Regions from separate parts of the Homo sapiens genome. Here region 2 is linked to region 1. The links come from fine-mapping of genetic effects on gene expression. A gene starts in region 1. The other region holds a variant in brackets. All regions are shown on one strand. Distances are from middle to middle.

What was found. PIP is the estimated chance that this variant, and not a neighbour inherited with it, causes the effect. A credible set is the group of variants that fine-mapping cannot tell apart.
Region 2: its variant is the best candidate, but not a certain one, in a credible set for the expression of RAB3B in iPS cells (PhLiPS, PIP 0.70).

Annotation. Positions count from the first base shown.
Region 1 is chr1:51,989,271-51,992,173 of GRCh38, reverse strand. It overlaps RAB3B (RAB3B, member RAS oncogene family), which reads left to right and starts at 1,474. Exons shown (of 5, transcript NM_002867.4): 1 at 1,474-1,622. RefSeq lists a silencer at 1,451-1,560.
Region 2 is chr1:51,905,618-51,908,520 of GRCh38, reverse strand. It overlaps RAB3B (RAB3B, member RAS oncogene family), which reads left to right. Exons shown (of 5, transcript NM_002867.4): 5 at 1-565. Among named protein-coding and RNA genes, the nearest start is that of NRDC, 28 kb to the right of the region's middle. The variant C/T (reference allele first, on the strand shown) is at 1,588.

The DNA of each region.
Region 1 (2,903 bases):
TGTACACTGTAGACAGGGTCATAATGGAACTTGGGGGGAAAATGGTTTTGGTATTTGACTCAGACCTCTAAGATCTGAGATGGGGGAGAAGTGTGGGGAAAGACAATGATTCTAGAGCAAGCCTTCAGCTGGCTCCTGTGACCTCAGGAAGACTGGAAGTCCATATCAGGATTTGAGGGTGGGGTATTTATTGCCTCCTCTATCTGCCTCCTCTAGTGGAAGTGGGACTTCCTAGGGCCAGGCCAGGCAAGAACATTTTTCTACTCCTGTTGACAGCCTCCTGGTAATGGGAAACCATTGAGAGGTTTTTGTTTGTTTGTTTGTTTGGTTTTTGATGGAGTCTGGCTTTGTTGCCCAGGCTGGAGTGCACTGCTGGAGTGCAGTGATCTCGGCTCACTGCAACCTCTGCCTCCTGGGTGCAAGCAATTCTGCCTCAGCCTCCCAAGTAGCTGGGACTACAGGCATGCACCACCATGCCCGGCTAATTTTTGTATTTTTAGTAGAGACAGGGTTTCACCATGTTGGCCAGGTTGGTCTCGAACTCCTGACCTCAAGTGATCTGCCCACTTTGGCCTTCCAAAGTGCTGGGATTACAGGCGTCAGCCACTGTGCCTGGCCGAGAGTTTTCTTAAACAAGGTTGATGGTAACATGGTGACATTTTTTAAAGGGTTGCTCGGGCTTGTGTCAAAATGATTTTGGTATCTGACTCAGAATGAATGGGACCAGGAAGTCTCACAGCTACCGAAGTCACCAGGAGTATGGCAGAACAGGGGCTAGTTAGGATGACCATGGGCCAGGGGCTGCAATCTTTAATGCATAAGGAACAATTGGGTGTCAGTGATGAGGAGGGGTGGAGGGTGGTATGACTGGAGACCACAGGAGAAAGAATTTTTGTACAAGGGTGGAAATGGCCATGCTGACACCACGTCCTGGTTTTATAGGGTGAATTGGAGAGTGAAGGCAGGAATTAGGAAGCTGTTGCATTAGTCCAAGCAAGAAGTGATGATGCTGGAGTCAGAACAAGGGCAATGGAGACACAGAGGAAGGGCAGGGATATGTTAAGGCGGTGGGATGTGGGGTGTGAAGGAAACACAGATAGGGTAGAGGACAGCGTCCAGGTTTCTGGCTTGGTTTCCGCTTGTAGTCAGCCTCCCTCTCTGGGCTTTTGTGAAGACGGAGCCATAGAACGGACCGGACCAGAAAGCAGTTTGGAAATGGCAAAACTGCTACCCATCATCAGCTACATTATCATCAAAGCTCTCTAATTACCCTAGTAAGTTCAGTCAATGGAACGAGGCATGACAATTAAGATAAATCACGAGAGTCACCCAGACATGGGGGACCTGGAGGTCCTGAGTCACCTCGGATTACACCTGCTAGGAGTTGAGGGCCGGGGCGGGGCGAACACAGACTCCGCCCTTGGGCGGGGCCTGGATGCGGCCGGAGCGGAGCAGTGCTGGAGCGGGAGCCTCAGCCCTCAGGCGCCACTGTGAGGACCTGACCGGACCAGACCATCCCGCAGCGCCCCGCCCCGGCCCCCTCCGCGCCCTCCCGACGCCAGGTCCTGCCGTCCCGCCGACCGTCCGGGAGCGAACCCGTCGTCCCGCACTCGGAGTCCGCGGTAAGGGGCGCGGCCCCGGCAGCCCGCCCGCGGAGGATCAGGGACCGATCCCCGGCGCGGGGCGCTGGGCACCGAGAGCGGGCGCCGAGAAGGAGCGCGGGGCAGCGGAAGGAAGCCGGGGGAGGAGCGAGGGAGGGGGCTCCGCGGCGGCAGAGGTGGGGCTCACCTAGGGAGGGGGCGCCGAGGGGGTCTCCCAGACGTTGGGGGCAGCCGGGGGAGCTCCAAGGGCGGGAGGGGAGCAAGAAAGACGGCGCTGGGGCTGGGAGGAGAGATGGGGGGCAACTGGAGGGCAGTGAGGGATCGCTGGGGGAAACGGGGGCGTGGGGGGCGGGGGAGCTGCGAGGAGGGCGGAGTGGGGCTGTGCGGAAAGGTGGTACCGGGCAGCCGAGGGGCAGCGAAGGGGGCGGTGAAGGGAGCGGACTGAGGGGAGCTAGAGCGGGGGTGCGGGGGGAGGCATGGAGGTGAGGAGCTGAGGGGAGGGGACTGGCTGGGCGGGGGTCGTTTGGAGCTGGAGGGGACTGAGGTGCCGAGGGCAAGGGGCGCTGGGCAGCTGGGGAGTGTCTGGTTGGGAGAGGGTCGGGGGTGGGGATGTGGGTATGGATAGCTGGGAAGGAGAAAGGCAGCAGGGCAGTGTCTGGTCGAAAGAGGGTCATTTATGGGGGATGTGGGTATGGATAGCTGGGGTCGGAGGTTGAGCCCGGCTGGGGACCGGCGTGGGGGTAACTGTAGATGGAAGACGAGGGGTGGGGCTTGGGGGCGGGAAGCTTGGGAGAATGGAAGGGTGAGAGGCCAGGTTGGGTCTACCCTGCTGCAGAGGAAGGGGGCAGGGAGCCGGTGGAGACACAGGGAAGTGGCCTTGGAAATGGACACAGGGGCCTACATTCTGGTCAGGAGTGGAGAGGAGGCTCTGGAATAGAGTAGGGTCTGGCGGCTGCAAGTGGAGGAATCGTGGGAGAACTTGGAGTGTATAGATAGGGTGGTGGGGCGCTGGGTCAGCCTGGGGAGGAGGCCAGGTGTGGGTCGTGGTGTAAGGGTGGAAAGGTAATGGGGGCTGGAGTGGTGTCCACGCACTAGCGGTGTCTCGGCCACTCAGGAGTCCAAGGAGGGGACCCAGGCACTGGACCTTGTTACACGGGCACCGGGGATCACAGAAAATAAGAGAATCGTGGACAGAAAAAGTCATCCAACTCTGTTCTGTAGTCCAAGCATGGAAGCAACTTTGGGGAGGGCAGGGCAGCAGCCTTTGGAAGCTAAGAGAGATGTGGAGGAGGTGGGAGAAAG
Region 2 (2,903 bases), 84 kb after region 1:
TCAGATCAAGGAGCCAGGAGCAGATGATCTATCTCTGTGGCCACACAGAGAGATGTCACCTTATGCAATTTGCATATCATATTCAATTCCCCCAACTGCTCTTTCTAATTTATTCAACTGGGGACCAGGCTGGTCTCATGCCAACCTAGGAGATGTACCATAGCAGTATGAGCAGAATTCCTCAGGAGGAACAATTAGCAAAAACTGCAGTTGCCTCTCGATAGGCCTGAGCAGAGAGAGGAACAATAGCTCTCACGTCTCTCCTCATCAGATTCTAACTAAGCAGATGTTCTCATGCTTTTTTCTTCTTCCTATGTTCTGTATACTGACACCTCTTCTCAGTGGCATATGAAATATGAAATGTCATGTGTTGTGAGTTTGTATAAATATAAAGGAATATATATACACAGTAGCAAAAGAGAAGATCTCATTTACAAATATCTATGGTGTTTCCTTGTTCTGTGTTGATCTGTTTTATTGATACAAACTGAATTTTCTTAATGTATCTTCTATCTCTATTATAGTGGCAATGATGGTATATGCATTAAAGTTCTTCTGAATTGTGTATCATTTGTAGAGTGACTCTTTCCTGAGTTTGTGCTAAGAACTTTGGGCAGAGGAGGCTGGGCGCAGTGGCTCATGCCTGTAATCCCAGCACTTTGGGAGGCCAAGGCAAGTGGATCACTTGAAGTCAGGAGTTCAAGACCAGTCTGGCCAACATGGCAAAATCCCATCTCTACTAAAAATACAAAAATTAGCCAGATGTGGTGGTGGGCACCTGTAAATCCCAGCTCAACTGGGGAGGCAGAGGCAGGAGAATTGCTTGAACCCAGGAGGCAGAGGTTGCAGTGAGCCGAGATCGCTCCACTGCACTCCAGCCTGGGTGACAGAGTGATACTCTGTCTCAAAAAAAAAAAAAAAAAGAACTTTGGGTACAGATTCTTGCATTCAGAAATCTTTAAGAGGAACTGGGAAACAGGTCCAGCACCAGTGCAACAAAAGACACAATATGATGCAATAGCTCATGATGGACTCAGGAAAGGGGGAGATCAGGATGGACTACAACAGTCAGGGAAGGCTTCATGGTGAAGGAAGGACTGACATTGCAAGAGGTCAGGGAATGCCTATTAGTGTGCACTTCTGGAGACCTGCTGGGCTGTGGCTCTGTGCTAGGTGGTGTAGAGGTTGCAGAGAATAACAAGGGGCAATGTGTGCCTCCCAGCAGCTTAGCTCAGTGTTAGCTCATAGCAGAGATTTAAGATACACTGCTGGATGGCACGTGGGAACAAAGCTGCTGAGCTGGAAAGTAGAGAGCCCACAGGAAAATGAAACCAAATGTAGACAGAACTGGCAGCCCCAGGAAGGGGCAGAACCTGCTCCCTACCCCCACCTCTCCTCAAAAAGTTTAATGAGTCTAAGTAGGCGGGATATTCAGTCCAATTTTACACCTATCTCCACCATGATGTGCTAGGAAACCTTTCCCCTTTCTTAGCCTAGTTAACTCCTACTCATCTGCCAGGACTCAGGCATGGAGACCCTGGTGGGCCAGGGAGGACACAGAGCTTTGGAAGCACAGAGCAGAGATAA[C/T]GGAGGTGTCAGAGATGCATTCAGAGATTGGAATTCCTTCCTTCCTTCCTTCCTTCCCTTCCCTTCCTTCCTTTCCTTCCCTTTCTTCCTTTTCTTTCTTTTCTTTCCTCTCTTTCTTTTTTGGCATTTTAAAGAGTCCCTAGATAGGATTCTTTCAGTTACAGGACAGAGACCCACTTTTAGTAGTCACACAGTAAAAGAGGGGATCATGGCGGGAGGGAAATTTGTTAGCTCATGTTACTTATAAAGTCCTGGGCTATATCTAGCTTTAGGCTTAGATAGAAGCAGGTGACTAAATTATATTATCAGGATTCTCTCTCTTAGCATCAGTTTTCTCTGGGTCAGCTTTATTCTCAGGCCACTCCGGGCTTATCCTATTCATATAGCCATCTGGACAGAGAGAATGGCTCTCCTTCAGTAGTTTTGGCAAAAGTCCCGGTCATGTTTAGAATAGTCTAGGATTAATCATTATGCCAGGGGATGGGGTGTTCTGGTTGGCCAACACTAGATTTTATGCCAATCTCAAGTTGGAATGTGGGGTCAGTCCCACCCAAACCAGAGGAACTGCAAGTGGGAGAGGGATGGTTGCCCCAAAGGAAAATTAGGGTGCTGTTTCCACAAGAGAAGAGAAGAGAAGAGAATAGATGTTGTCCAGGCAAACATACCAGCTAGTCACAGGAGCTACAGAATCAGATCATTCCACAAAAGACATCCAAAAACTGGACTGAGAATGAGAATGGGTTATACCCTCAGGATATGGGGATGGAAGGAATAGGATGGGTAGGAATGTGGGGAGGGGCAGAGTGGAAGCAGCCAGCTGAGGGCAGAGTAGTCGAAGGTCAGTACATATGATTGAACAGGCTGTGTCCTGCTGAGTGGGCCAGAGGGAGGCTAAATCGGGGTTGAAATCAGCCTAGATTCCAAGTGCAAAGCCTTGGGTCCTGGTGTGGAGCTGCACTAGGAGAAAGGGCTCTTTGGTGTAATTCACACAAGGGTGCTGTCTCCTCACTAAGCCATGAGCATAGGGGCAGCATCCATCCAGAGCGGGCACAAATGTCTCCATTCTGCACAAAGATGCAGTCATGGGTTGAATTGTATCCTCCCAAAAGATATGTTGAAGCCCTAACCTCTGGTACCTGTGTGTGTGACCTTATTTGGAAATAGCATCTTGGCAGATGTAATCAAGTTAAGATGAGGCCATACTGCATTTGGGTAGACCCTAAATCCAACGACTGATGTCTTTAGAAAAGGGATGAGAGGGAGATTCAGACAGAGGGACAAAGGGAAGAAGGCTTTCCAGGGATGGAGTCAGGGAT